Regions from separate parts of the Homo sapiens genome. Here all the other regions are linked to region 2. The links come from fine-mapping of genetic effects on gene expression. A gene starts in region 2. Each other region holds a variant in brackets. All regions are shown on one strand. Distances are between the middles of the regions. Region 1 has its middle 15 kb from the start of WDR20. Region 2 holds the start of ZNF839 (zinc finger protein 839). Region 3 has its middle 26 kb from the start of HSP90AA1.

Region 1 (10,680 bases), 200 kb before region 2:
ACTTCTATCATATCTACCAACTAGTTGTGGTTTGTTGTTTGTTTGTTTTTTTGAGACGGAGTCTCACTCATCACCCAGGCTGGAGAACAGTGGTGCGATCTCAGTTCACTGCAACTTCCGCCTCCCAGGTTCAAGCAATTCTCCTGCCTCACCCTCCGGAGTAGCTGGGATTACAAGCACGTGCCACCATGCCTGGCTAATTTTTGTATTTTCAGTAGAGACAGGGTTTCACCATGTTGGCCAGGGTGGTCTCGATCTCCTGACCTTGTGCTCCGCCCGCCTCAGCCTCCTAAAGTGCTGGGATTACAGGTGTGAGCCACCACACCCGGCCGTTTTCCTCTTCTTTATGCATTTTGAAGACTAGAATTCATAGCAGTAATCCGTGGAATGATATTTTGTTTTGAGGGAGTGTCTATATGATCCATAAAGTTGTATGCAAAATTTGGTATGCATATACATTTGGGTTGGAGAATGAAATTAAAAGCTTTCCTGAAGTTTCCTAAGGGGTATGTTATGCTATAAAAACTTAAGAATCACTTATCACACCAAAAAGATATTAAGCTTTATGTTATTAAATCAAGTTAAAAAGTAATAATTATAGGGCTACTTAGTTTTATTAGAATACAGACTGGGTGTGGTGGCTCATGCCTGTAATCCTAGCACTTTGGGAGGCTGAAGCAGGAGGGTTGCTTGAACCCAGGAGTTCGAGACCAGCCTGGGAAACACAGTGGGACCCCATCTCTGCAAAAGATAATTCGCTAGGCATGGTGGCATGTGCCTGTAATTCCACCTACTCAGGAGGCTGAGGTGGGAGGATCACTTGAGCTTGGGAGGATGAGGGTACAGTGAGCTGTGATCATGCCACTGCACTCTATCCTGGGTGATGAAGCGAGACCCTGTCCCACCCTCCCCCACGAAAAGAATACAGATGATTATGGGAGTCATTTACATTTAAAGACTTTTGTTTGATTACCATATATTTATATAGTACATTACCATTTACAAAGAGATTTTATATATTTTGTCTTTTGAACTTTTGACACACATAAGAAATACGTATTACTCTAACTTTAACACAAGAAAATAGATTTAGAGAGGTTACTCTCTAAAAAGTGAAAGTGTTAGTAAGTAATGAAGTCAGTTCTCAAACTCAGAGTTTAATAAAACCTATTTTGTTATAGGTATATACAAATTTTACCTTTTTAGGCCGGGTGCGATGGCTCACACCTGTAATCCCAGCACTTTGGGAGGCTGAGGCGGGCCGATTACCTCAGGTCAGGAGTTCAAGACCAGCCTGGCCAACATGGTGAAACCCTATCTCTACTAAAAATACAAAAATTAGCGTGGCGGTGGGCGCCTATAATCCCAGCTACTCAGGAGGCAGAGGCAGGAGGATCGCTTGAACTCAGGAGGTGGAAGTTGCAGTGAGCTGAGATTGCACCACTGCACTCCAGCCTGGGCAACAAGAGCTAGACTCAGTCTCAAAAAAAAAAAATTTCTGCTTTTCAGAAAATGAAATATTATACATACTAATCTGCAACATACACACACACACACACACACACATACACACACACACACACACACGTAAAGTTGAGACAGGGTCTTGCTCTGTGGCCCAGGCTGGAGTGCAATGGTGTGATCATGACTCACTGCAGCTTCAACCCCCTGGGCTTAAATGATTGATGCTCCTGCCTCAGCCTTCCAAAGTGCTAGGATACAGGTGTGAGCCACCACACCAGGCCTGTATTTTTCATTTAATATATTTTGGATATGTTTTCATGTCAGTATATGTAAGTTTATGAATTCATTGTTTAACAGCTGTAAAGTATGTCATTTCCATAATTTATTTATTGAATTCTCTATTGATGGGTACTTAGATTATTGCCAATTTTTCACTATTAAGAACAATGCTTTGGTGAAAATCCTTATACACATAATCTTTGTACATTTATGCGGGTAAATTCCTAGAACTTGAGTTGAGTCAAATCACATAACTACAATAAGTATTTTGACAGAAATGATCAAATTGCCCTCCAAATAAATAACAGCAACTTGCATTCTCACTAATGGAAAATCAAAATGCCTGTTTTTTTTCTCACCAAGTATGTGAACCCATCCTGTTTCTTAATACTTGTGCCAACATTAACATCTGTGCTAACACTATTATCAATTTTATATTGATAATTGATATTTTCCAATGTGATAGTAAAAAATAGTTTCAATTTGCATTTCTTTAGTTATTAGAAAACAATGAGCACCCTGGAGTGGGGAAATTCTTTCTAGGCATGACAGGAAACTCAGAAGTCATCAACAAAAATCCTAATGAATGCAACTTTTGTGAATTGCTTGCTTATGTCCTTTGCCTATTTTTTTCTACTGGGTTTTCTTTCTAATTGCTCGAAATAAGTTTTTATTATTAAGGATGTTAATCCCTTGCCATATGTGTTGTGAATATTTTTTCCAAGGTTGTTGTCTTTTCATATGGTGTCTTGTGCCATGCAAGACATAAAATAAAAATATCCTATGGCTTCTGAATTTTGGGCTATGTTTAGAAAAGCTTTCCTCACTTCAAGATTATAAATATATTTATTCAAGTCATTTCTTTCTCTTATGGTTATTTTTTATATTAAAATCTTTGCTCTATCTGGAGTTTATTTTGGAGTGAGGAGGGAAGTAGGAATCCAATTTTAAAATTATAAATGGTTAGTTGGTTGTTCCAATACCTCTTCTTAAATTAATCCTGCCATCTCTATCATATGTCCATTTTTATTGGGGTCTAATTCTGTACTTATTCCATTTTAGGAAAAGGATCTGTTTAAAGACTTTTTTTTTTTTTTTTTTTGACGGAGTCTCGCTCTGTCGCCCAGGCTGGAGTGCAGTGGTGTGATCTTGGCTCAGTGCAAGCTCCACCTCCCAGGTTCACAACATTCTCCTACCTCAGCCTCCCGAGTAGCTGGGACTACAGGTGCCCACAACCACACCCGGCTAATTTTGTTGTGTTTTTAGTAGAGACGGGGTTTCACTGTGTTAGCCAGGATGGTCTTGATCTCCTGATCTTGTGATCCACCTGCCTCGGCCTCCCAAAGTGTTGGGATTATAGGCGTGAGCCACTGTGCCCAGCTTAAGAGGTTTTATAATACATATTAATATTTGGGAGGCAAGTCCCCCCACTCCACTCCTGCCATTACTCTTCTTTTTCTTTTTTTTATTTTTTATATATATTTTTTGAGACAGAGTCTCACTCTGTTGCCCAGGCTGGAGCGCAAGGGTTCGATCTCAGCTCACTGCAACCTCTGCCTCCTGGGTTCGAGCGATTCTCCTGTTTCAGCCTCCCGAGTAGCTGGGATTACAGGTGCCTGCCACCATGCCC[A/G]GCTGATTTTTGTATTTTTAGTAGAGACGGGGTTTCACCACGTTGGCCAGGCTGGTCTCGAACTCCTGACCTCAGGTGATCCACCCGCCTCAGCCTCCCTAAGTGCTGGGATTATAGGCATGAGCCACTGCGCCCAGCCAATACTCTTCTTTTTCATAGTGATTCTTAAATGCTTATTCCAAATGAAACTTAGAATAATTCTGACAAACTGTAAATAAAATTCTGTTGATTTTGATTTGGCCTGAATTCAACTTACACACTGATCCAGACAGAACTGTCATTTTGGCCAGGCACAGTGGCTCATGCCTGTAATCCCAGTATTTTGGGAGGCCAAGGTGGGTGGATCACCTGAGGTCAGGAGTTCGAGACCAGCTTGACCAAGATGGTGAAACCCCATTTCTACTAAAAATACAAAAAATTAGCCGAGCGTGGTGGTAGGCCCCTGTAATCCCAGCTACTTGAGAGGGTTAGGCAGAATTGCTTTAACCTGGGAGGCAGTAGTGAGCCAAGATCACAACCACTGCACTCCAGTCTGGGCAACAGAGCGAGACTCGGTCTAAAAAAAGAAAGACAAAAAACAAAAACAAAAACAAAAAACCCTGTCATTTCTACAATGTTGAGTCTTGTTACCTAAGAATGAGGTGTTTTAATTATTTTGTTTCTTCAGAATTTAAGAGTGCTCTTCAAGTAGTTTCTAAAACCTTGTGGTTTTTTTTTTCTTTTTTTTTTAAGAGATTGCATCTCACTATGTTGTCCAGGCTGGTCTCAAACTCCTAGCCTCAAGGGATCCTCCCGCCTTGGTCTCCTACAGTACTAGGATTACAGGCATAAGCCACTATGTCCAGATAGTTTATGAACATGTTCTAAATATATTCAGAGAAACTGTGTGGTTCATCTCAGGGGGCACCATTCACACTGCAGTCAATGAAATTAAAGGCACCCCCCACTTCCCTGTGAGATGTATACTAGCAACCGTGTTTTTTTTAATTGAGACAGGGTCTCATTCTGCCAACCTAGGCTGGAGTGCAGGGGTGTAAACATGGCTTACTACAGCCTCAACCTCCTGGGCTCAGGCAATGATCCCACCTCAGCCTCCCCAGCAGCTGGGACTACAGGTGTGTGCCACCACACCTGGTTAATCTTTAAATTTTCTGAAGAGATGGCGCCTCCCTCTGTTGCCCAGGCTCCTCATGAACTCCTGGCCTCTGCCTCCCAAAATGCTGGGATTACAGGCGGAAACTACCACGTCCAGCCTATTTATCTTATTTTGTTATTGTGAATGTGACATTTTCTTCCATTATACTTAAATTAGTTACTATTTGACAGAGAAAGTAGAGACAGTTATTGATGTTTGAATGCTAATTTTTTTTTTTTTTTTTTTGAGATGGAGTTCCACTTTGTCTCCCAGGCTGGAGCACAATGGCACGATCTGGGCTCACTGCAACCTCTGCCTCCTGGGTTCAAGTGATTCTCCTGCCTCAGCCTCCCACATAGCTGGGATTACAGGTGCTCGCCACCATGCCCAGCTAATTTTTGTGTTTTTAGTAGAGGTGGGGGTTTCACCATGTTGGCCAGGTTGGTCTTGAACTCCTAACCTCAGGTGATCTGCCCACCCTGGCTTCCCAAAGTGCTGGGATTATAGGTGTGAGCCACTGTGCCTGGCCTGAATGCTACTTTTTAAATCTGCTATATTACATTGTCTATTGTTTCTTTTTTTCTTTTTTAGAGATGGGAGTCTAGCTATATCCCCCAGGCTGGAGTGCAGTGGCACTATCATGATTCACAATGTAAACTTGAACTCCTGGCCTCAAGCAATCCTCCTGCCTCAGCCTCCTGATTAGCTGGAATTACAGGTGTATACCACCATGCTTGGCTTCTTATTGTTTCTTACAGTTCTTCAGTTGATCCTCTTAGATTTCCAACATCTAATCATATATAAATAATAATTTCATTTAAAACTTTTATGTACTATACTGTCACAATATTAAATAATGTGATCATGAATAGAATTTATGTTATGTCTTTTGACCTTAAGTCCAGTGCTCTTTTTTGAGTATATATTCAATCCACTAAATAGTTATTGAGCACCAACAATCTATAAAGCATTGCTATAGATGAGAAAGACATGGTAAAAAGAAAAATCATTCAGTGCCCACATTCATAATCTTTATTTATTTTTTTGAGATGAAGTCTCACTCTGTTGCCTAGGCTGGAGTTCAGTGGTGTGATCACAGCTCACTGAAGCCTCAAACTCCTGGGTTCAAGCGATCCTCCCATCTCAGCCTCCCAAGTAGCTGGGACTATAGCCATGTATCACCATATCTAGTTAATTTTTATTTATTTTTTGTAGAGATGGGGGCTCCTTGTGTTGCCTAGGCTGGTCTCCAACTCCTGGGCTGAAGTGATCCGACTGCCTCAGCCTCCCAAAGTGCTGGGATTACAGGCATGAGCCACTGTGCCCAACCTCATAATCTTTTCTTATCCCAACAAACAGATCTAGAGCCACAATAAAAACCCAGTTGATAATTCTTGCAATGTTAAAACCTATCCAGCAAATTCAATATTCTATCCTACTAAACTGAAATGTGACCATATGCAAAAATTATTCTCCAAGGACAGGAGTGTTTCGTTTTTGTTATTTTTTAGGAAGAGGGAAGCAGAATGAGCTGGGACTAAGGAAGTGAGTGAACAATGGGCATGCTAAGTAGATATTTACCTGAAAGCCAAATACATAAAATAAACAAGGGGCTGAATCTCCCCCGCTCAGAAAGCTAGAAGCAGAGCTTTCTGAAAGCATGAGTAATGTGACCTAAGGCAGAGTTTAACCTCAGGGGGAAGGTATAAGAAAAGAAAGCATGCATGAGCATATTTTTAAGTCTGTGAACTGCAATCGTGTGTAGCGAACAACCTAGTGAGATGAGACAGCAATGTAATAAATGTCATAATAAAGTTAAGTATTAACATAAGGTGCTAAAAGAGAATCTTTCTCAAAGGTGAGTCACTCATTTGGCAAGTGTGTATTGAGTACCTATTGAATGTCAGGCCCCAATCTACACACGACATGCCAAACAAAAATAGGCAGGATCCCTATTATAAGCTTACGGTCTACTGAGGGAGGTGGCTTTTATTTAAGAAAACATATAAATATGTGTGTGTATGATGTATATATTATTAGAAATTGTGCTAAGTGCTATACGGGAAATAATTCCATGAGAAAATAAGGTGACATAACTTACATTTGGGGCCTCAGGGAAAGCCTCTCTGAGAAGGCAGCCTTTAAGTTGAAAAGTGAGGGATGAATAAGCAGAGAGCATACCAGGCAGGAGTGATTTTTGGAGTGAAGTCTTCTGGGATGAGCGGCCTTCTATTCCCTCTGATGAACAGAGAGGAAAGGGAATCTCACTTATGCAAAAGCATGAAAGCACAGGTGTGACAGGTATGAGGAACTACAAGTTACCATAGCTCAGTAAGGGGACACGTGGACATGGAAACACCAGGAAAAGAGAAAAACAAAACGCAAAAATATGAAGAAGATGGAAGAGGAACAAACTAGAAATCCAATTCAGTATGTGTTGATTATTTACTATGTGCTTAGCAATATCTTAGGGGATTCTTAAAGCGGAAAAAGAATGGCTCCTCCTCTCAAGAAACTCGGAGTCTAAATGGGTAGATACTGACTGCATCCTCGACTAGATTCTTTTTTTTTTTCTTTTTTGAGACGGAGTCTCGCTCTGTTCCCAGGCTGGAGTGCAGTGGCGCAACCACGACTCACTGCAAGCTCCGCCTCCCGGGTTCACGCCATTCTCTTGCCTCAGCCTCAAGAGTAGCTGAGACTACAGGCGCCCGCCACCACGCCCGGCTAACTTTGTTTTTGTACTTTTAGTAGAGATGGGGTTTCACGGTGTTAGCCAGAATGGTCTCGATCTCCTGACCTCGTGATCTGCCCGCCTAGGCCTCCCAAAGTCCTGGGACTACAGGCGTGAGCCACTGCGCCCGGCCGACTAGATTCTTTTAATATCATAAACTGTGTTTTTGTTTTCCCAATCAGTAACTCCTAAAATGAATTTTTAAATTAACAAATGAATCTTACTTCCTGCCACAGGCCCCAGCTACTACTTTACAGCAATCTATGGCTAAAAATCACTGTTTTACTGGCTGCTTCTCAAAAGGCCAATAATGCTGATGAGGCTCTTCAGAGAGTGAGAAGTACTTTTTTTTTTTTTTTAAATCACCTCTTCATAGCCTCCTCCCAATAAGTACTTATAATTATATATAAGTAACAAGTTAATTTTTTCTTTACATATAGCATACTAGCTCTTTAAAAAATCTCATCTTTCCTGTTTCAGGATCTCAGATAGAAAAAAGTTAGGAACTGTTATTGAGGCTATTAAGCTTGAACGTCCTTGCTCTAATCTTTGCAAAGATAAAACCCACAATGCTCATTAAGCTGCTTGGATAAGCTGTTGTTTTACTTCTTACTGGAGGAGCTTAACAATGAAAAACAAAGCTAGCATGAGTTCTATCTACAAAAAGTGATGTCCTAATTTGAATTCAGTTCTAACATACTGTAATAATTCAATTAGTTCTGTGACTGAGGCAGAATGTCCCAGCCTTATGACAGTTCTCTTATTTTCTTCCTGTATTTTCCCTTTATTACTATGGTTTGGAACCCACATTTCAGTCTTATCCCTAGAGTCTAAGATAATTAAAATAGCACACATGGAGTTATATTTATTTGAGGGGGTAGGAGACAGCTGTGACTCTTTCAAGGCTGGGACTGGAGACAGTAAGCAATAGGCAGAGGTGTTTTGTTTTATTATATATATACACATACATTTTTTGAGTCAAGGTCTTGTTCTGTGGCCCAGGCTGGAATGCAGTGTTATGAACACAGCTCACTGCAGCCTCAACTTTCTGGGCTCAAGCGATCCTCCCAACTCAGCCTCCCGAGTAGCTGGGACTACAAGTGTGTGTTGCCACGCCTGGCTAACCTTATTTTTATAGAGACAGGGCCTTGCTATGTTGCCAGGTTGGTTGTGACCTCTTGGGCTCTAGCTATCCTCTTGCCTCGGCCTCCCAAAGTGCTGGGATTATAGGTGTGAGCCACCACACCAGCCATGTTTTGTTTTTAATTGGAGAAAGAAGCAATTCTATTAACAATTACCAACACACTGCCAAACTCTCAAGCAGAAATGAACATTGGTTCTTCTGTGCTGCTCTCTTCTTTGCTCAGCAGGCTCATACTACATGGGAGGAGGCAGTGCAGTGTGGGAGTCTGCCCAGGAGAAACAGTAACTTGCTGCTGGAGCAGGGTGTCCTAGAGGAGACCAGGAATTTGTTACAAGAACATGGTGGAGAAATTGATCTTGAAAAGAAGAGGTGGCTGGGCACGGTGGCTCACACTTGTAATGCCAGCACTTTGGGAGGCCGAGGTGGGTGGATCACTTGAGGTCAGCAATTCAAGACCAGCCTGACCAACATGGTGAAACCCCGTCTCTACCCAAAATACAAAAATTAGGATGGGCGCAGTGGCTCACGCCTGTAATCCCAGAACTTTGGGAGGCCGAGGTGGGTGGATCACCTGAGGTCAGGGGTTCGAGACCAGCCTGGCCAACATGATGAAACCCCATCTCTACTGAAAACACAAAAAATTAGCTGGGCATGGTGGCGGGCGCCTGTAATCCCAGCTACTCGGGAGGCTGAGGCAGGAGATTGCTTGAACCCAGGAGGCAGAGGTTGCAGTAAGCCAAGATCGCACCATTGCACTCTAGCCTGGGCAGTAAGAGCAAAACTCCGTCTCGGAAAAAAAAAAAAAAAAAAAAAATTAGCCGGGTGTGATGGTGCATGCCTGTAGTACCAGCTACTCAGGAAGCTGAGACAGTGAATTGCTTGAACCCAGGAGGCGGAGGTTACAGGGAGCTGAGATCATGCCACTGCATTCCAGCGTGAGCCATATAGCGACACTCCATCTTAAGAAAAAAGAAAGAAAAGAAGAGAAGAGGTACTTCTTCTTTTAACCTAGAAGAATAAGAATGGGTTCAGATAGAGATAAGAAGGGAGGTATAAGTTGGAAGGTAAGAAATGAGAAAGGTTTATGCCTTACGGTGATTCCCAAGTTTTCTTGGTTCTCAGAGCCCTTAGTGTTTCAGAATTTCTTTATGGCGCTCCCTGGACCAATAGAAAAATCTAACAGTTCCATTTACCAGGTACAGTTCAAACAACCTAATAAGTAGTTATGCCTGGATAATTTAGCAGCTGTTTGAAAAATAAATTGAGCACTATAGATAGAGTGGCTCTAGTTTTGATTTTTTTTTTTTTTTTTTTTTGAGACGGAGTCTCACTCTGTCGCCCAGGCTGGAATGCAGTGGGGCAATCTCAGCTCACTGCAACCTCTGCCTCCAGGGTTCAAGCAATTCTCCTGTCAGCCTCCCGAGATTACTACAGGGGATTACTACAGGCATGTGCCACCACGCCCACCTGGCTAGGTTTGATTTTTTTTAACTGCACATATAATTCACCCAACGACTATTATTCAGTGGTTTCTGGTATATTCAGAACTGTGCAATTATCACCTCTAAAAGAAACCCTGGGCTCATTAGCAGTCACGACTCCTTCCCTGTCATTTCCCCATCCCTAGGCTACCACAAATCTACTTTCTGTCTCTATACTACATTCCTTTTTTTTTTTTTTTTGAGTTGGAGTCTTGCTGTGTCGCCCAGCCTAAAGTGCAGTGGCTTGATCTCAGCTCACTGCAGCCTCCGCCTCCCGGGTTCAAGCAATTCTCCTGCCTCAGCCTCTCGAGTAGCTAGAATTACAGGTGCACGCCACCATTCCCAGCTAATTTTTGTATTTTTTTAGTAGAGACGAGGTTTCACCGTGTTGGCTAGGCTGGTCTCGAACCCCTGACCATGTGATCTGCCTGCCTTGGCCTCCCAAAGTGCTGGGATTACAGGCGTGAGCCACCACGCCCGACAACTACATTCCTTTCTATCATAGCTGATTAATATTCCATTGTATGGATATACCACATTTTGTTTATCCATTCATTAGTTGATGGGCATTTGGTTTGTTTCCACTTTTTGGCTATTTTGAATAATGCCGCTGTGAACATTCACGTATAAGTTTTTGTGTGAAATTTTTTTTTTGTTTTGTTTTGTTTTGAGATGGAGTCTCGCTCTGTCGCCCAGGCTGAAGTGCAATGGTGTGATCTCGGCTCACTGCAACCTCCGCCTCCTGGGTTCAAGCGATTCTCCTGCCTCAGCCTCCTGAGTAGCTGGGATTACAGGCCCGCACCACCACACCTGGCT
Region 2 (10,680 bases):
GTGCTCTGTGAGAGGGCTTTACCCCTTTGGCCTGCTCATCTATCCTTGTCCTTTGGACACAGTAAAGTGCTCCAGACTTCAGGACGCTTGCCCAGCCTCCCAGCACACCACCTAATCTTCTCCGTTCCCTATAATATCCGCCTTCCTTGTTATGCGGAGAGCTCCATCAGGATGGGGATTAGGTTTCTTTGACTCACAGCTGATTGGGGGCCAGGGCACTGCCGGGCTGAATGAGTATGTCTTCACTGAGTGTCCGTTTTTCTAAACCTGGTCCTCTAGCCTTACTCGTGGAGGGTGACCTACCTAACATCCTTTACATAAAATCTTTTCGAATCAGCTAGACTCGGTTTCTGCTGCTTGTGACATAGAACCCTGACGATACCTCAGTCCAAGCAGTTTAGTGGAGTAATCAGAGCAGAATGTATAATGTTAAAAAGCTGGCCCGATGCGGTGGCTCACGCCTGTAATCCTAGCACTCTGGGAGGCCGAGGCAGGCGGATCACTTGAGGTCAGGAGCTCGAGACCAGCCTGGCCAACATGGTGAAACCCCATCTCTACTAAAAATACACACACACACACACACACACACACACACACACACACACACACACAAAGTAACCGGACAAGGCGCGTGCCTGTAGTCCCAGCTACTTGGGAGGCTGAGGCAGGAGAATCGCTTGAACCCAGGAAGCAGAGGTTGCAGTGAGCTGAGATTGCACCACTGGACTCCAGCCTGGGTGACAGAGCGAGACTCTGTCTCAAAAAAAAAAAAGCTGGTGCTCCTGGAGTGGGAGGGCCACGCAGCACACCATAGTCAGGCCCTGTAGGAGAACAGTAGGCCTCTGGGACATGCAGGCTGGGTGGTGGACACGGTGGTGGTTTGTCTTCCCAGCCTTTTCTTTCTCTCTCTCTTTTTTTGCATACAGATCCTACGCTTTTAGGGGTGGGTACCATCGTTGCCTACTCAGTGGCTGTTTCAACCCTTCTGCCTGTACCATGTGATTTATTTATGTGCTCAGTTAACAAGAGAGAGAGCAAAATGAAAACATTTTTACAGACACTAAAAAAAAAAAAAAAAAAAAAAGGAGAAAGCCATGGTGGTTTGTCCACTCAATGAAACACTGAGAAATCATTTAAAGTGACATTTGCAATTGTTTAGGGATATGCTTATTCTAGAATATTAAATGCAAAAAGAAAGATAAAAAATAGACTGCTTCATTGAGCCGAAATCTCGCCACTGCACTCCAGCCTGGGCGACAGAGGGAGATTCCGTCTCAAAAAAAAGACTGCTTCATACAAGGCTTTGGATTCCGTGTGTGTGTGTGTGTGTGTGTGTGTGTATAAATACACGTGTACTGTAGGAAAAAAAACCAGCAGGAAGGAAGCCAAGACCCCAGCGGCCCTTGTTTATTGGGCGATAGGGAATTCGGTGGTTCTTTTGTCCGGTTTTCTGTATTTTCCAAGCTTGATTTAACCATGCTAAAGGCCTCTGTTACACGAAGTTTCCACGCTGCAGGATTCTCGGAGATAAAAACAACACTGAGTTGGCATGTTTGAAAACCTTCTCACTGCGGAGCTAAGCCTCCCATGTGCAATTTGCATTTTTCCTGTGAAAAAAAGCCGCCTTCGCTGTAGGGAGTCGCCTCCCTTCTCCTTGAAGTCCCCTAAGTCTTAGTTTCTGCATCGGGCCAATGGGGATGACTGTGAAGAGGTCGGAAGTCGCGGCTGTGGCGAAGCGGAATGCAGCCAGCGGCGCCGGCCCGGCAGGGAGTCGCTAGGGGGCGGGCGCGGGCTTGGAGCCCTCTTAGGCGCTCCCGTGGGGGCCCAACGTCAGGCGGCCGGTTAGCTCAGTTGGTTAGAGCGTGGTGCTAATAACGCCAAGGTCGCGGGTTCGATCCCCGTACGGGCCAGGCTAACTTTTTTTTTTTTTTTTTGGTCCCCGCAATGTTCCTTTCTGATACTGTAACCGGCGTGCAGGCAGGAGAGAACTGCGGAATCTTTTGGACTGGCCCAGAGGTTATCCAAGGCTACCTGCTGGGGAGAGCGGGAGGAACTCAGAGCGCGCTGGGGCGGTGGCTCCTCACCCCGAGTCCCCGCGCCGCCACCTGAAGGGTCTGTTTTAGAATGCCATTGGTTAGGCCTTTTACTTTTGTCGTTTTAAAGGACACTCTGGACATCCAACCGATGCACATCCCACGCCCCCACCCCCCACGTTTCCTGAGGCTGCGTCTGGCCTGGAGGAACCGCCCAGTGAAGACAGGTGCTCGCAGATATCACCGCCTAGTGTTCCCTGGGCCCACTTGCGGGGAAGTCTTGGAGGTGAAAATCCAGGTCTGGAATGAATGCATTCCACAGATGCATATGGAGAGCTACTGCATGCCCAGCACCATTCCTAGGCTGGGAGCAAAACGGTGAGACACAAACCCCAACCCGCTGGAGACAGTGACCAGCCACTAGATGACTGCCATGTTTTTAGTGAGGCATTCAGGTTGTGGAAGCCTCTGGAAACCTTCTCTTGCTTTTTGTCCCCCCTCTTTTCTTTTCGGAGACATCTTAGGCTTCACATTTCTTCCTCTTGGTTCTACATTTTGAAGCCAGAGCAAGTGGATGAATTTCTCACTCGGTTCGTTTCTAGGGTGGTCAGGTGTGCTCAGCTGAACAAAAGCCGGTTGTATAAGGTTGATGCCATTTTATGTCAGGATCCGGCAAGGGCTCCACCTGTTTTTGAAAATTCTACAGTGGAAACAGCTACTAGTTCTGACCTAAATAAGAAGCAGCTCAACATCTACAGACCTTGGTATGTGCCCAGGGTGTAGTAAAAGTTCTCAATAAATGCCAGCCGATGGCGCTGCTGCTATTATAAGCAAAGTTAGGAGAGCCTGGGGCAGCTGACACTTAAAATAGACATCTGTACACAGGATGGATGTCACATCTTTTAATAGTCGTGCCAGGCACGTTGTTAGATGCAGGGACACAGCATGGAGGAATCGGTGGAGGTTGCTGCCCTCAAGTTTCCTGAGCTTGAAGGGGTTTAGAATATGCCACGGTGGCATGAAAATTATTTTGAGCAGAAGGCATGTGAATTCCTGAAATCTGGTCGGGTGTGGTGGCTCACACCTGTAATCTCAGCACTTGGGAAGGCCGAGGCGGGCGGATCACCTAAGGTCAGGGTTTCAAGACCAGCCTTACCAACATGATGAAACCCCGTCTCTACTAAAAATACAAAAATTAGCCAGGCATGGTGGCGGACGCCTGTAATCCCAGCTACTCAAGAGGCTGAGGCAGGAGAACCGCATGAACCCAGGCGATGGAGGTTGCGGTGAGCTGAGATTGTGCCACTGCACTCCAGCCTGGGTGACAGAGTGAGATCTTGTCTCAAAAAAAAAAAAAAATTGTGGTAAGATACCCATAATATAAAATTCACCATTAAAAAATAACACGGAAGGGATCATCGTGAATGCAATGTGAGTATTGATGAGGATGGTGGTGATCTTCCAGAACCTTCTCTGACGCCACCCAGGCCGCCAGCCTTACTTTACCGGCTTCGGCGCTCATCATACTGTGCTGCAAATGCCAGTTTCCTCCTTCCCCCTTGGGAAGTTTCCTCCTTGGGGGTCGGCACCTAGACTGTATACCCCCCAGGGCGGAAACAGCGGTTCACCCACCAGGTGCTTAAGAAGGGTTTGTGGACCAGTGGACCTCCTGCTCTCCCTGGGGAAAGGAGCTGGGACATGTGTACACACCTGCAGCTACAAGATTCGGAGGGCGCACAGAGCCTCAACCGTAAGAAGGAGAGGCGATCAGGCTGAGGAAGATGGGGCAGTGGAGCTGGATGGATAGAGAGAGGGTGGGTTCATTCATTCGTTCACTCATTCGTTTATTCATATTCATCCATCCATCATTCATGCCCTGAGCGTGCGTTGTGTTCTGGGCAGGGCCTGTGCTGGGCACCGATTGTGTAATATATCATCTCTCCCTTCAAGGTGCACCCAATCTGGGTGGGTGGGTAGAGAGAAGCTACGGTGACAAGGCAAAAATTTGGGAAACACTCTCGTTAACAATTCAAACTGTGGTCCCCTCCCAGATGTATAAATCCAAATGTTTAGGGGTGGGCACAGTACTCTGCATCTCCAGACAGCATCCTCCGCTGATTCGGATGCATGATGACGTCAGAACACTTGGATATTGTGGTAACTTTTGGGCCAGGGGCTCTGAAACCCCGAAGACCTCCCCCTGGGAGATCCGGGACAGCTCCCAGAGAAGGTGAGTCTTAAACACATCCGTGACAGGCAATAAGGAAAATAAGGGGGGTCCGCTCTGCTGATCAGCCCTAAGAGCCGCGGCGGTTGTCGGCTGGGGCGGGGCACTCCACGACTTTCCCGGCCAGACACGGTCGCCTTCCTAGGTGTCTTGGCCTGCGAGGCACTCGTAGCCCGCCCCTCTCCTAGGTGACGTACATTGGAGACGCCGTCGCTCAGCGACCCGGGTTCGAGTCCCCGCCTCGGCCGCCATGGCGGATGCGGAGCCGGAGGCTGGGGGCGGCAGCGAGGATGGCGGCGGCGGCGGCGGCCCGGCTCCTCCGGGCCAGAGCGGCAGCGTCGCACGTGTGGCCCCGCTGGGCCCCGAGCAGCTGCGGCAGGTCCTGGAGCAGGTGACGAAGGCGCAGCCGCCGCCGCCGCCGCCCCCCTTCGTGCTGCGGGACGCGGCGCGGCGGCTGCGGGACGCGGCCCAACAGGCCGCCCTGCAGCGGGGCCGGGGCACCGAGCCCCCGCGCCTGCCGCGCCTGCTCCCGCCCCAGGTGAGGCGTCGGGAGGGACGTGGGGAAACTGAGGCCCGAAGGGGGCCGACGCCCCGCGGCGGGGTAGCTGCTTGTCCGGGGAGGCCAGTATCCGCCCGGGTTAAGACTCAGGGCGTCCCCAGGCTGAGCTTCTTAGGGACGGCGTTCGGCCCCCACCTGTCACCACCCTGGCATTTTCACCCCAGGAGCCTCACTCTAGGAGCGGTTGCTCACGCTGGGCCCTGTGCCTGGAACGCCCTCGTGCCTTCTCTGCCTTCACAGCCCTGCTGGGGGCTTTTGCGTGCTCCCTAGCTCTTCTTACAGGCCTTTCACCGCTGGTTCAGCCTTTGTGGAGCACTTAGAGACCGTGTTCCCAGCACTCCCCACTATGTGCAGGAGGTGAAGCCTTGAACACACTTGCTGAAGAACGAACATAAGGCAGGTTCTGGGATTGACGGGGGCTGCTTTAGAGTGGGTGGTCCCGTAGGCCAGACACTGGAGCTGAAACATAAATGAATTAAAAGGAACCAACTTAGCTTTTCAGTTGTAAGGTGCCAAGGCCCAGGCTTGGAACAAAGTCAAGCACAATACACTAGTTCGCTGCAGGACTTAACATCCTGGGTGATAGTGACTGATTTGTAACCGCAGTACCCAGCACAGTGCCTGATACACAATGTTTGGAATATGTGAAAGCACTCTGTATACTACAAAACATCCTTTCCCAGTGGGTTTATTTCCTGGGCCACACACCTTTTGGTTGCTAGGGGGGTGATAACTAGAAGACGGTCGCCCAACTCCGGAGGGTGAAGCATAGCGCCTGAAGCCAGAGGGCCTACACGGCATCTGTAAAATTCCACCCCATTTCAGCGCTGGGGTTGTAAACAAAATTAGTCTCACCCCAAAATTGCCAAAAGAAGACAGCTTTTTCCACTAGAAGAAACGGGTTAGGGAATAGAATCAGGAACCTTCACTCGTTGAGTTTTTTTGACTGATGTTAGCTGCTTAGGGTTGTATCCAGTTAATCATCAAGACTGGAGAGTTGTCTTGCTAAGGTTTAGGAAGACCAGTGTGATTCTGTCCAGATGCCACACTATCACTATCTAGAGGTGTGACCTTGGGTAAGTCAACCTTTTTGGACTTTGGTCTGGGTCAGAAGGCTGCAAGGTGCCATCTGGGGGCAGCTATCTGCAAAGCCTCTGCTCTGCGCCCGGCGCTGTGCGGGGCCGCTCAGTTTTCAGCAGTGTTTTTGTACCGGCATTTTGCAGGTGGGAAACAAGCTCAGGGAGGTTGCGTGGCTTTGCCCAAGGTCCCTCAGGTGTGGCTGCTCTCCCTAGCCCCTGTACTCCTCACCATACCCTGCTGAATATGGCCACAGCTTTTTGGGTTTGGAATCCAAAAATGACATATTTTTCGTAAAGCAAAAGCAAACTTATTCGAGCTTAGGCAGCATGATGGGATTGTATTTTGTAGCTAATCTAATGGAGACGATATAAATTCTACCTGCAATAATATACCTTTGCAGCACATTCTTTTAATACTCTTTCAGCCCCAGCTGTGTCATGGAGGCCACAAAGGCAAACCGGATGCGTACTTTGCCCCTCAGTAGTTTATGAACTAACAGGAGATGAAACAAGACCCAGATAACTTCTAGTCAAGGCCAGAAAGCTAAAGATAGTGAAAAAGAACTGAATGTATTTAGAGAAAGGGAGATTGTTCCTGGCTGAGGACATCAGAAGCAGCTTTGTTGAAGAAGTGGTATCTGAACTAGATTTGAAAGGGTGCGTCTGAGTTGAAAATGCAGAAGGGGAGAGGCAGGTTCTGGGGCGGTTGGGGGTGCATTTCAACAACCACAGCAGAAGGCCCAGTGTTCGCTGTGGGGGTGGTGTGGATCAGCAGCACAGACCAATGGACACACTTGGGTCAGATCGAGGCCCCTGTCTCTCCCCATCCTCCCTCTTCCCCACCCCACAGAAATTTCCAGTTCCATCCAACATGCTGTGCCCCTTTTCATGCATCCGTGCATTTACACATGGATGTGTGCCCTTTTTCACCTGGCAAAAATTCCCAGCCTTCAAAATGCCCCTCAGAGATCACAGCTTCTGGGCAGCCCACCACCTCTGGGCTGTTCCTGCCTCTTGATTGCACCTGTTGTACCATGATGACATTTTTCCTGTCTGCCTCACCTGTCTGCATTCCTTAGGGAAGCTTGTCTGCCTTCAGAATCATCAGTGGAGCTTTTGAAAGGGCAGATCTTGGGGCCTCACCCCAGGAGATCCGATTCAGCAGGTCTGCGGGGACTGAGGTATGGCAGGGGAAACCGCCCCCATCTCAAGGGTGAGGTTAGGACTTGGCTCCTGTGTATGTATTCCACCCAGAAATACTGAGTTAACATTAGCTGAATTAACTAAACAAAGTATCAAGCATAATACCCACAGGGTAAGCCAGTGAGGATAGAGGATAAATACATTATTAGTCTGGCTTTGCCGCTGTGGTTATCCTCAAACAGTAGGGTTTAGTGTATGTATGTATATGTATTATGTTTTTGTTTTGGGGTTTTGTTGAGACAGGGTCTTTCTTTCTCACCCAGGCTGGACTGATCTCGGCTCACTACAGCCTCGAACTCCCAGGCTCAAATGATCCTCACACCTCAGCCTCCCGAGTAGCTGGGGCTACATGTATGCACCATCATGCCTGGCTAATTTAAAAATGTTTTGTAGAGACAGGGTCCCGCTATGTTACCCAGGCTGGCCCTGAACTCCTGGCCTCAAGCAGTCCTCCCGCCTCAGCATCCCAAAGCACTGCGATTACAGGTGTGACTGGCAGTAAAATGAAAGAGATGGGGTTCTTGAAGGATATGCGCAGTCAATCTCGTTGTCATTTGTTTCACAAGTAGCCCAGGAGTCGGGGACTCCCAGGGCTATGGTGCCACCTCTCTACAATTCTTCATACAAAGTGTTGGCTGACCTCTGCTATTTGTACTAGTATAACAGACAGACGAGAGACACACTCCAGCTTGATCTCAGTGAGGATCTTTATTCTGTCCTGTGTGACATTTTTGTTGATGCTCCACTGTTTGAGGGTCACACCAGAAGGTTGAGTCCAAAGAGGGCCAGTTGGTCGTCCCAAATAAGTGATTCTCAACCGAGGGCAGTTTTGCCCCACAGGGGGCACTTGGCAATGTCTTCATTGTCAGGACTCGGGATCACTACTGGCATCTAGTGGGTAGAGGCAGAGATGCTGCTGGCCATCCTCCAGCCACCCATGTCAAAGGATTATGTTCTGAAATGTTGGTTGGGAAATCGTGCTCTGGATGATGAGGTTTGCCTCTTTTTCTCCCTGGAGGAAAGTGCTCATTATTTCTGCTCTGTGAGGGCGGGAGCCTTGTTTCTTTTGCTTCCCCGTCCTTCTCCCCTAAGCTGTAAGACAGCTGTTTCCCTGACACCTGTAACAGTGTTTCTGGCACGCGGTCAGTGCTCAATAAATATTTGTGGGGTGTTATTGAAGGTAGTTCTCCCCTTTGGTAGGTGTTTTGCTATTATAGACAGTGCTGCCCTGAACTTCGTAGAACAGAACATCTTTGTGGCCACCTGCGTGTTTTTTTTATAGAATCCAGGAAATGGAATTACTGGGTCAAAAAGCACATGTATTTGAAATTTTGTTAGATATATTTGTAAAAAGTTATTGAAGATACTCAGCCCTACGCCTAGGTACATGCCCCTGGAGAAAGTCACACATGTATACACATACATCGTGAAGATTCAGAGCAGAACTTAGGAACAGAAGGTTGGAAACCACCTGTCCATCAATAGGAGACTGGTGTACTCATACTGCAGAGAAAATGAACCCGTGACACCTACCCATGTTAATGTGGATAAAATTCACGAAGCAAAATGAAGTAAAGAAACCCAGAAAAGCCCTTTCAAGTTGCAGGAGATGATATCATTTATATAAAGTTTAAAAACATTTCAGAACTGAACTATATATTTTTAGAAATATCTGCATATGCCACATAAATTTTTAAAATCATAAGAATGCTAAACAGCACATTCAGGACAGGGTGAAGAAACAGGCATGCAGGTTGTGCAGTAGGAAGCTGGGTAACATTGTTCCTTATGGCTTTGTTGTCGCTTCCAGAATTTCATTAAAAACTTTTTAAAAAACATGGGCCCACATTATGAATTACGTCTGCTTTTAGAGTACTAAAAACTCCAAGCAAAAACACATGGGTAACGCCGGGCACGGTGGTTCATGCCTGTAATCTCAGCACTTTGGGAGGCTGAGGCGGACAGATCATGAGGTCAGGAGTTTGAGACCACCCTGACCAACATGGTGAAACCCCGTCTCTACTAAAAATACAAAAATTAGCCAGGTGTGGTGGCAAGCGCCTGTAATCAGGGCTACTCAGGAGGCTGAGGCAGGAGAATTGCTTGAACCTGAGAGGCAGAGGTTGCACTGAGCTGAGATAGCGCCACTGCATTCCAGCCTGGACCACAGAGCGAGACTTCATCTTAAAAAAAAATTAGCTGGTCATGGTGGCACACACCTGTGATCCCAGCTATTCAGTAGGCTGAGGCAGGAGAATCATTTGAACCTGGGAAGTGGAGGTTGTGGTGGCACTCCAGCCTGGGCGACAGAACGAGACTCCATCTCAAAAAAACAAACAAACAAAAAGCCAGCCGGGTGTGGTGAGGCAGGTGGATCGCCAGAGGTCAGGATTTCGAGACCAGCCTGAATGGTGAAACCCTGTCTCTACTAAAAATACAAAAATTAGCCGGGGCGTGGTGGTACGTGCCTGTAATCCCAGATACTTGGGAGACTGAGGCAGGAAAATTGCTTGAACTCGGGAGGCGGAGGTCGCAGTGAGCCAAGATAGTGTCGCTCCACTCCAGCCTGGGCGACAGAGCAAGGGTCCGTCTCAAAAGAAAAAGAAAAACCTCACATGGGTAAAACTGTTAGGAAGGCTCTTATCTCTTCACTGGTCATGAAATCAACTTAGTGGATTATGACTAGTATTTTTTAAAAAGTGATGTAGAATAGGGCTGGGCGTGGTGTCTCACGCTGGAAATCCCAGCACTTCGGGAGGCCAAGGCAGGTGGATCAATCACTTGACGTCAGGAATTTGAGACCAGCCTGGCCAACATGGTGAAACCCGTCTCTACCAAAAAATACAAAAATTAGCTGGGTGTGGTGGCAGCTACTCCGGAGGCTGAGATGAGAGAATCGCTGAAACTGGGAGGCAGAGGTTACAGTGAACTGAGATCGCACCACTGCACTCTAGCCTGGGTGACAGAGTGAGACCCTAATCTCAGAAAAAAAAAAAAAAAATGATGTAGAATAGATACAATCAGCGGGCATTTATATAGGGATGGTAAGTAGTTCCATCAACTTTATTTTATTTATGTATGCAGATATTTATATACACGTGTACTAGGTCATAATGTAAAATGTATCATTGTGGTCTCTGTTTTTGTTTTTGTTTTTTTCAGATGGAGTCTCACTCTGTTGCCCAGGCTGGAGTGCAGTGGTGCGATCTCAGCTTACTGCAACCTCCTCCCGGGTTCAAGCGATTCTCATGCCTCAGCCTCCTGAGTAGCTGGGACTACAGGAGTGCATCACCACGCCCAGCTCATTTTTGTATTTTTAGTAGAGATGGGGTTTCACCATGTTGGCCAGGTTGGTCTCGAACTCCTGACCTCAAGTAATCGGCCTGCCTTGGCCTCCCAAAGTGCTGGGATTACAAGTGTGAGCCACCAAGCCCAGCTTATATCACTGTGGTCTCTGGTCAGAAAGGTCTGGAAAATACCACCTTAGTACAAACACATTACATCAACTTTTATATGTAAGATGTAATTTAGAAAAAATGTCAATAATGGTTTTATGACGAGACTGAAATTGCAGACATG
Region 3 (10,680 bases), 210 kb before region 2:
GAATTTTTAATAGCAATGGGGTTTCACCACGTTGGCCAGGATGGTCTCGATCTCTTGACCTCATGATCCACCTGCCTTGGCCTCCCAAAGTGCTGGGATTATAGGCATGAGCCACCACTCCTAGCCTAGCCCCTGGTTTTGCAGAAGCACATTTTCCACAAGCACAGAGGATATGTAGGGGATATGGCAAGTACTAGCAAGGATGCTGGTGGGTGTGACAGCTGGTGTGGCTGTTCTGGAGAGCCACCTAGCAGTTTCAGTCAAATGAAGAATGTGTGAACGCTCTGTCCCACCAATCCTGTTCCTGAGCACAGACCCAAGGGAAGTTCTGACAAGGATCCATAGGAGGGCACGTATGAAGATGCTCACTGTAATACTGTTTGTGTCTTTGTGTGTATAAAGGCTTCTGGTTTCTGTAATTGTATACCCTATCATTTCACTGAATTCTCTCTTAAATTTTTTTTTTTTTAGAATTGGGGCCTTGAAGCCCAGGTGCAATGGCTCACACCTGTAATACCAGCACTTTGGGACGCCAAAACACGAGCATTGCTTGAGACCATTTTGAGACCAACCTGGGCAACATGGCGAGGCCATGTCTCTACAAAAATTTTAGAAAATTAGCTAAGTGTGGTGGCATGTACCTGTGGACCCAGCTACTTGGGAGGCTGAGGTGGGAGGACTGCTTGAAACTGGGAGGTTGAGGCTGCAGTGAGCCATAATCATGACATTGCACTACAGCGTAAGCAACAGAGCGAGACCTTGTCTCCAAAAAAAAAAAAAAAAAAAAAAAATTGGGCCTCGTTCTGTTGCCCAGGCTGGACTTGGACTCCTGGACTCAAGCAATCCTCATACCTCAAGCTAGGACTACAGCCTTGTGCCATGGTGCCTAGCTTTGAATTCTTTTTTTAAAAATTGTTTTATTAATAGCAGTTTTTTAGTTGATTTTCTTGGGCCTTGTAAATATTGATCCTATCATTAACAAATAGTAAAACTTTTAACTTCTCTTTTCTAATTTTTACACATCTAACTTATAACTTTTTTTTTTTTTTTTTTTTTGAGATGGAGTCTTGCCCTTGTTGCCCATGCTGGAGTGCAATGGCGTGATCTTGGCTTACTGCAGCCTCAACCTCCTGGGTTTGAGCGATTCTCCTGCCTCAGCCTCTGGAGTTGCTGGGATTACAGGTGCCTGCCACCACACCCAGCTAATTTTTTGTATTTTTAGTAGAGACGGAGTTTCACCATGTTGGCCAGGTTGGTCTTGAACTCCTGACCTCATGATCCACCCACCTCGGCCTCCCAAAGTGCTGGGATTACAGGTGTGAGCCACTGAGCCCAGCCCCTCATTTGTAACTCTTATCTGATTGCTTTGGCTAATACTTTCAATACACTGTTGAACAGTAGTGGAGATAGTGGTCATTCTCTTCCTGACTTTAGCAGGGCTATGTGGATTGCATTTCATTTATTTTAATTTTTATTGGACAGCTGAATTTTTTAACTTTTTAAATTAAGGTATAATTTACATAAAGTGCTAAATCCTAAGTGTAATACTTGATACACTTTTACAGCCAACACCCAGCTCAAGATGCAGACTTTCCAGCACCCCAGAGGCTCCCTATGTTTCTTCCCTATCAATATCTCCCTCAAAGATAACCAACATTCTGACACCATTGATTAGTTTTGTCCATTTCTGAACTTCATACAGATGGAATTACACAATACGTACTCTCATGTCTGGCTATGTCCACTCAGCATTAGGTCTGTGGGATTCATCCATGTTGTATGTAACAGTAGTTCCAAGTTGAATATCCCTGATACGGTTTGGCTGTGTCCTCACCCAAATCTCATCTTGAATTGTAACTCCCACAATTCCTACATGTTGTGGGAGGGAGCTGGTGGGAGGTAACCGAATCATGGAGGTGGGTCTTTCCTGTGCTATTCTCATGATAGTGAATAAGGCTCACAAGATCTGATGGTTTTAAAAATGGGAGTTTCCCTGCACAAGCTCTCTCTTTGCCTGCTGCCATACATGTAAGACATGACTTGCTACTCCTTGCCTTCTGCCATGATTGTGAGGCTTCCCCAGCCATGTGGAACTGTAAGACCATTAAACCTATTTTTCTTCCCAGTCTTGGGTATGTCCTTACCAGCAGCATGAAAATGGACTAATACAGTAAATTGTTACCAGCAGAGTGGGGCACTGCTGAAAAGATAACCCAAAACTCTGGAAGCAACTTTGGAACTGGGTAATGATGAAAGGTTAGAACAGTTTGGAGGGCTCAGAAGAAGACAGGAAAATGTAGGAAAGTTTGGAACTTCCTAGAGACTTGTTGGATGGCTTTGACCAAAATGCCGATGATGATATGGACAATGAAATCCAGGCCGAAATGGTCTCAGATGGAGATGAGGAACTTGTTGGGAACTGGAGCAAAGGTGACTCGTTATTTTATTTTTTTTTGAGATGGAGTCCTGCTCTATCATTCAGGCTGGAGTGCAGTGGTGCAATATCAGTTCATTGCAAATTCCGCCTCCTGGGTTCAAGCGATTCTTCTGCCTCAGCCTCCTGAGTAGCTGGGACTACAGGTGCCTGCCACCACGCCTGGCTAATTTTTTGTATTTTTAGTAGAGACAGGGTTTCACCATATTGGCCAGGCTGGTCTCGAACTCCTGACCTTGTGATCCACCTGCCTTGGCCTCCCAAAGTGCTGGGATTACAGGTGTGAGCCACCGCACCCGGCTGACTCATGTTACGTTTTAGCAAAGAGACTGGTGGCATTCTGCTCCTGCCCTGCCCTAAAGATTTGTGGAAATTTGAACTTGAGAGAGATGATTTAGGGTACCTGGTGGAAGAAATTTCTAAGCCACAAAGCATTCAAGAGGTGGCTTGGGTGCTGTTAAAGGCATTCAGTTTTGTTTGTTTGTTTGTTTGTTTGTTTGTTTGTTTTTGAGAGAGTTTCACTCTGTTGCCCAGGCTGGAGTGCAATGGTGTAATCTCGACTCACTGCAACCTCTGCCTCCCGGGTTCAAGCAATTCTCCTGCCTCAGCCTCCCAAGCAGCTGGGATTACAGGCGCCCACCACCATGCCCGGATAATTTTTTTTTTTTTGAGACAGTCTTGCTCTGTGGCCCAGGCTGGGGTGCAGTGGCACGATCTTGGCTCACTGCAAGCTCCGCCTCCCGGGTTCACGCCATTCTCCTGCCTCAGCCTCCCGAGCAGCTCGGACTACAGGTGCCCCCCACCACGCCCGGCTAATTTTTTTCTATTTTTTAGTAGAGATGGGGTTTCACCGTGTTAGCCAGGATGGTCTCGATCTCCTGACCTCGTGATTCACCCGCTTCTGCCTCCCAAAGTGCTAGGATTACAGGCGTGAGCCACTGCGCCCAGCCCAATTTTTTGTATTTTCAGTAGAAATGGGGTTTTGCCACGTTGGCCAGGCTGGTCTCAAACTCCTTACCTCAGGTGATCCACCTGCCTCTGCCTCCCAAAGTGCTGGGATTACAGGCATGAGCCACTGCACCCAGCCAAAGTATTCTGTTTTATAAGGGAAGCAGAGCATAAAAGTTTGGAAAATTTGCAGCCTGGAAATGCACTAGAAAAGAAAATCCCATTTTCTGAGGAGAAATTCAAGCTGGCTGCAGAAATTTGCTTAAGTAACGAGGAGCTGAATGTTAATTTCCCAAGACAATGGGAAAAATGTCTCCTGGGCATATCAGAAGTCTTCACGGCAGCCCCTCCCATCACAGGCTTGGAGGCCTAGAAGGAAAAAATGGTTTTATGGGCCGGGCCCAGGGCCCCCTTGCTCTGTGCAGCCTAGAGACTTGGTGCCCTGAGTCCCAGCCACTCCAGCCATGGCTAAAAGGGGCCAAGGAACAGCTCATTGCTTCACAGGGTGCAAGCCCCAAGCCTTGGCAGTTTCCACATGGTACTGAGCCTGCAGGTGCATGGAAGTCAAGAATTGAGGTTTGGGAACCTCTGCCTAGATTTCCCTTTTCATGTTCCCTAGATACAATGGGGGTACAGGCATTGGGTAAATACACCCCTTCCAAATGGGAGAAACTGGCCCAAAACAAAGCATATCCTTTCACAGCTTCTTGAGAAGGGGCACAAAGAGGGTAAATTGAAACCCTGCATGTCCCACAATATCTTTATTCTAAACTCATACTTGAGTGATATATTGGTTTAGTTATAAGCTGGAATAAATACTTCCTCAGAATTTTGAAGCCATTTCTCAATTGTTCTCTTACATTCAATAAATTTTTACTGAGACTCTAGTACATGCCTGGCACTGCCTCTAGGCACTTGGGATCCATCAATGAACAACAGAGGCAAAGATACATCAAGATAGCATAAAAGAGCTTTTTTTCCTACTTGTGTTATGGTTTTCAGTGGTGGTGTTTACAAGTCAAGCTATTCTGATTACTGATCCCTTTTATATGACATTTCTTCTCTCTGGAAGCTTGTAGGATCTTTTCTATTCCAAGTGTTCTAAAATTTCAAAGTGATGTACCTTGGTATAGATCTATTTTTATCCATTCTGCTGGACACTTGGTGGGCTCATCCCCTCTGTAAACTCATGTTCTTCAGTTCTGGAAATTTTACTTGAAGATTTTGTGGATAATTTCCTCCTACAGTGTTTGGAGTTTGGACCTCTTAGATTCTCTAGGTGGTCTTCTATTATATGCTCTCTCTCTCTTTTTGAGACGGAGTCTCACTCTGTTCCCAGACTGGGGTGCACTGGCACGATCTTGGCTCACTGCAGCCTGTGCCTCCTGGGTTCAAGCAATTCTCCTGCCTCAGCCTCCTGAGCAGCTGGGATTACAGGTGCCCGCCACCACACCCAGCTAATTTTTGTTGTATTTTTAGTAGAGATGGGGTTTCACCATGTTGACCAGGATGGTCTTGATCTCTTGACCTTATGATCTGCCTGTCTCAGCCTCCCAAAGTGCTGGGGTTACGGGCGTGAGCCACCGTGCCTGGCTCTCCCTTTTTTTTTGTTTTAAAAGAGACAGGGTCTTGCTCTGTTGCCTAGCCTGGAGTGCAGTGGTGTGATCATAGTTCACTGTAATCTTGAACTCCTGGGCTCAAGAGATCCTCCCACCTCAGCTTCCTGAGTAGCTGGGACTGGAGGCACACACCACCATGTGCAGCTAAGTTTTAAATTTTTTTGTAGAGATGGAGGTCTCACTATGTTGCCCAAGCTGGTCTTGAGCTCTTGGCCTCAAGGCATCCTCCTGGCTTTACCTCTCAAAGTGCTGGGATTACAGGCGTGAGCCACTGTGCCCAGTTGATTTCAACTTTCTCTTCCAACCCTTCTAGCATTTTAATTTCTGCTGTTAAGTTTTTAATATTCAAGAGGTTTTTTATTTTCCTAAGTTTTTTACAAGAATGCAGACCGTTCTTATTTCATAGATGCAATATCTATTTAAACTACTAATATTAGCACTTGTTGTAAATTCGCATCTCCCTGTACAGCCTGTTTTCTTCAATATTATTTTTTCTGTTCATTTGTGTCATTTGTTTTGTTTGTATTTATTTATTTATTTTTTTGAGATGGAGTCTCACTCTGTTGCCCAGGCTGGAGTGCAGTAGTGCGATCTTGGTTCACTGCGACCTCTGCCTCCCGGGTTCAAGCGATTCTCCTGCCTCAATCTCCCAAGTAGCTGGGACTACAGGTGCCTGCCACCACACCTGGCTAATTCTTGTATTTTTAGTAGAGACACGGTTTCACCATGTTGGCCAGGCTGGTCTCGAACTCCTGACCTCAGGCAATCTGCCCGCCTTGGCCTCCCAAAGTACTGGGATTACAGGTGTGAGCCACCGCGCCCGGCTTGCTTGCTTGCTTGCTTTCTCTCTCTCTCTCTCTTTCTTTCTTTAATTAATTTATTTATTTTTGAGACAGAGTCTCACTACGTCACCCAGGCTGGAGTGAAGTATAGAGTGCAATGTTGTGATCTTGGCTTGCTGTAACCTCCGCCTCCCAGGTTCAAGCAATTCTCCTGCCTCAGCCTCCCGAGTAGCTGGGATTACAGGTGTGGTATGCCCCACCATGCCTGGCTAATTTTTGTATTTTTAGTGGAGACGGGATTTCACCATGTTGGCTAGGCTGGAACTCCTGACCTCAAGTGATCTGCCTGCTTTGGCCTCCCAGAGTGCTGGGATACAAGCGTGAGCCACCGCACCAGGCATACTCATTTATTTTATTTTTTTATTTTTATTTATTTATTTGTTTATTTTGAGACGGAGTCTCGCTCTGTCGCCCAGGCTGGAGTACAGTGGCATGATCTTGACTCACTGCAAGCTCTGGCTCCCAGGTTCACGCCATTCTCCTGCCTCAGCCTCTGGAATAGCTGGGACTACAAGCGCCTGCCACCATGCCCCGCTAATTTTTTCTATTTTTAGTTGAGACGAGGTTTCACCATGTTAGCCAGGATGGTCTCGATCTCCTGACCTCGTGATCTGCCCACCTTGGCCTCCCAAAGTGCAGGGATTACAGGCGTGAGCCACTGCACCCCGCCCCCATTTATTTTATTTATTTATTTTTTGTTACAGAGTCTCACTCTGTCATGCAGAGTCATGATCTCATGTCTCCCAGGCTCAAGAGTCTCATGCCTCAGTCATCCGAGTAGCTGGGACTACAGGCGTGCGCTAGCACACTGGGCTAATTTTTATATTTTTAGTAGAGATGGGGTTCACCATGTTGCATAGGCTGGTCTTGAACTCCTGACCTCAAGTGATCCGCCCACCTCGGCCTCCCAAAGTGCTGAGATTGCTGGGATTACAGGTGTGAGCCACTGCACCTGGCCATGTCATTTATTTTGATCTCTAAGTCACGTTTAGAGGCTTTTCTCAGATGTATGATAATCCTTGGATGTCTGCTTATGACTAAGAGTAGAGGACTAAAAAGCCATTTGGAAGATCTGAGCACATGGTTTACAGGATTTTTAGACTTTGAGATTCACTGCAGGGTATTCTACATGGGCAATTTGTTGGGAAACCTCTTAAACCTATATCCTGGGGATTGTCAGATTCTCCAGAAAAGAGTCTTCTAAAATTTCTGCATGGAGAGTAAAGATTTGGGTGCCAGTGTTTTGAAAGCCCAGTGGAGAGAAAAGGCAGGGGATTATTCCAGCATTCAGTAATCACACACTCACGTAATCCCCATTTTCAAGAGACTACTCTTGCCTTAATTTGGCCTAGTATTCCCTGTATAGAAATTCTTTGTTTTAGGCCGGACCCGGTTGCTGACTGTAATCCCGGCACTTTGGGAGGCTGAGGCGGGCAGATCGCCTGAGGTCAGGAGTTTGGGACCAGCCTGGCCAACATGTTGGAACCTCATCTCTACTAGAACTAAAAAAATTGGCCAGGCATGGTGGCTCACGCCTGTAATCCCAGCACTTTGGGAGGCTGAAGTGGGTGGATCATGAGGTCAGGGGATTTAGACCATCCTGGCTAACACGGTGAAACCCCGTCTCTACTAAAAATACAACAACAACAACAAAATTAGCTGGGTGTAGTGGCGGGCGCCTGTAGTCCCACCTGCTACTCGGGAAGCTGAGGCAGGAGAATGGCGTGAACCCAGAGGGCAGAGCTTGCAGTGAGCCGAGATGGCGCCACTGCACTCCAGCCTGGGCCACAGAGCAAGAAAAAAAAAAAAATTAGCTGGGTGTGGTGGTGCATGCCTGTAGCCCCAGCTACTAGGGAGGCTGAGACAAGAGGATCCCTTGAACCCGGGAGGTAGAGTGAGCCAAAATCATACCACTGTATTCCAGTCTGGGTGACAGAGCAAGATTCCATCTCATAAAACAAACAAACAAACAAACAAACAAAACAACTCTGTGTTTTACTTTTACAAAAAATAAACCTTAGACTTCTGCTAGGATGGGAGAAGGAATCTAGGAATCTAGATTTGCAAGGATTTATGTAAGATAAACTCCAAGAAGTGAGATTGCTGGATTGAAGAGTACGTACATTTTAGATTTTGATTAGTTATTGCCAAATTGTTCTCTGTTGCGCTTGTAACAGTTTTACACCAACAGCAATAATATGCATATTTGTTTCCTAATACCTTGTAAACAGTTATCAAACTTTTTGACTGTGAAAATATTTAGCCAGGTACAGTGGTTCACGCCTGTAATCCCAGTACTGTGGCAGGCTGAGGTGGGATCAGTTGAGCCCAGGAGGTCAAGGCTGCAGTGAGCCATGATTGTGACCCTCCACTCCAGCCTGGGTGACAGAGCAAGACCCTGTCTTAAAAAGAAAAAAAAGAAAAATTTATCTGATTCTAAAAAAAATTTTTTAGAGATGGGGTCTCCCTATGTTGTCTAGGCTAGCCTAGAACTTCTGGGCTCAACTGAAGCTCCTGCCTCAGCCTCCTGAGTGGGTGGGATATAGGCACCTGCCACTGAGCCCAGCTTAACTGTTATTTTAATTTGTATTTTTCTTAAGTTTAAGACC[G/A]AGCATCTTTTTTTTTTTTTTGAGATGGAGTCTTGCTCTGTCGCCCAGGCTAGAGTGCAGTGGTGCCATCTCGTCTCACTGCAAGCTCTGCCTCCCGGGTTCACACCATTCTCCTGCCTCAGCCTCCTAAGTAGTTGAGACTACAGGTGCCCGCCACCACGCCCAACTAATTTTTTTTGTATTTTTAGTAGAGACAGGGTTTCAACGTGTTAGCCAGGATGGTCTCGATCTCCTGACCTCGTGATCCACCAACCTTGGCCTCCCAAAGTGCTGGGATTAGAGGCATGAGCCACTGTGCCCGGCCAAGACCGAGCATCTTTTAATGGTGGAGAGAGTTGTGTTTCTGTTTTGTTCCTGTTTGCTCAGATCCTTTGTCCATTAGATTTTTAGCCTTTCTTTTATTGATTTCTAGGAGTCCTTTATTCTTTTTCCAGTTTGTTGTTTGTTGATCTTGCTTATCATGGCAGTGGCCACTGCACCAGCCACAGCGGGGAGGTGCAAGCAGTGGCGGCAGGGGCAGCTGCGGGAGCAGGAATGGTGGCAGTGGGTCCCCTGTGCTCCACGTTCCCGAGGCAGGTGACTGTGCTGCCCCCACCCTTGCATGGTCAGGTGAGACCTGTTCCCAGGCCTGGAGCCTCTGCTGCTCTGGACCCTGGCCCCGTGTCACCACTCTAGCCTACTGCCACTGCGGAGAGGGCATGGGGAGGAGGTAGAGCTGTGCCTGGGGCAGTTCCATGAACCACAGAGCCAGCAGGAGCCAGGGACAAGCTGGACCCTCCCCAACACTCCCTGCCCTCCACAGAACCCACCACCCTGGGCGCTGCCACAATGGGGCTGGGCACAGAGAAGCAGTTGGGCATGGGGTGGGCAGGCAGAAAGGGGCCCATTGAGGACCTGGAGCCCCTGCCCCAGGCTGCCTGCAAGCTCCATGCAGTGGTGGGAGCCCCACCCTCCCAGGTGTAGGATCTGGGCATCTCTGCACTCTGTGCCCTCAGGGCACAGGCTTGGGGGTGTCTGCTTCTGCTGCCTGGCCTCTCCCCACTCCTGGCACCCACTCCGATCTCAGAGTGGCATGGGGGTTGAGCCTGGGCGCTGTCCCAGCCTGGCTGGGTGTGCACCCGCTCAGTGCAGCACTAACATGTCAACCTCCCTCTTTGGACTTTTGGTAATGAGGAGCATGGGAGAGACGCCAAGGGGGGTGCTAAGGGCAGCTCGGCACTGGCCTGCAGGCACCCCTCAGCAGGAACAGCCTGGGTGCCGTGAAAAGTTGTAGGAAGTAGACCGGCTCCAGGGTGGAAAGGGGTGGGTCCCCAGTGAAGCACCACCTTCAGGCCAGGGAGGGCCTGAAGGCTGGGGGCCAGGTTGCCAGTCCCATGGACTGGAGTGGGAATTTGTGGTGCCTTTTCCAGGCCCACTTATGGCCACCCATGGACCAATCAGTGTGCACTTCCTCCCCTCTGAGGCCCATAAAAGCCCAGGACTCAGCCAGAGCAGAGCTGAAGACAGGATGACCAGCTGCAGAGATGAGCTACCCTCCACGCTAGGAGCTAAACACTCCTCGGGATGACCTGCTTAGCAGAGAGGAGCTACCCTCTTTGCTAGGAGCTGAACACCCCCCAGCTGCAGAAAGGAGCTACCTCCTCCAGGTCTCCTCGGGGCGGTTCTACCACTCAATAAAGCTCCTCTTCATCTTGCTCACCCTTCACTTGTCTGCATACCTCATTCTTCTTGTTCACAGGACAAAAACTCAGGACCCACCGAATGGCGAAACTAAAAGAACTGTAACACAAACAGGGTTAAAACATGCCCACTGCTCACCACGTTGCGGGCGAAGAGAAGGAGAGAAGAGCTGTGGCCCTTTGGGAAGCCCAGACCTGGGAGACCTGGGAGCTCCCTGAGCCAGGGTTTTGAGTCTCTCTTTGGGGCCCTGCAGTTCCTGGTGTCTCCAAGCTTCTAGGCACCACTGCATTCCCCAGTGCCAGCTGGGGAAGCTGCTTGCGATGTCCCTGGTCCAGCTGCAGCCTTGTAGAGAGCCATTGCCTGTGCTGGCACCTGGAGCTGCCTGCTCCATGGCAGCAGCTGGCATGTCTGACTGCACAGTGGCTGGACTCCACGCTCGTTCATACACCCCTCACTGCTCCATGCCTGACTTACAGACTCCCCTGGAGGCATAGGATCCAGGCTGGTAGCATGAGCCAAGCACAGCCTGCCAGGCTGAATGGGCAGAA

Evidence for each region. PIP is the estimated chance that this variant, and not a neighbour inherited with it, causes the effect.
Region 1: its variant is the best candidate, but not a certain one, in a credible set for the expression of ZNF839 in whole blood (TOPMed, PIP 0.62).
Region 3: its variant is the best candidate, but not a certain one, in a credible set for the expression of ZNF839 in whole blood (INTERVAL, PIP 0.81).

Annotation. Positions count from the first base shown.
Region 1 is chr14:102,119,456-102,130,135 of GRCh38, forward strand. It overlaps a transcript of HSP90AA1 not described here. Among named protein-coding and RNA genes, the nearest start is that of WDR20, 15 kb to the right of the region's middle. The variant A/G (reference allele first, on the strand shown) is at 3,374.
Region 2 is chr14:102,315,256-102,325,935 of GRCh38, forward strand. It overlaps ZNF839 (zinc finger protein 839), which reads left to right and starts at 4,491. Exons shown (of 8, transcript NM_018335.6): 1 at 4,491-4,798. The coding sequence starts at 4,511. It overlaps TRI-AAT5-4 (tRNA-Ile (anticodon AAT) 5-4), which reads left to right and starts at 1,837; the gene lies at 1,837-1,910. RefSeq lists enhancers at 1,527-1,626, 5,001-5,110 and silencers at 4,551-4,650, 4,711-4,900.
Region 3 is chr14:102,107,497-102,118,176 of GRCh38, forward strand. It overlaps a transcript of HSP90AA1 not described here. Among named protein-coding and RNA genes, the nearest start is that of HSP90AA1, 26 kb to the left of the region's middle. The variant G/A (reference allele first, on the strand shown) is at 8,453.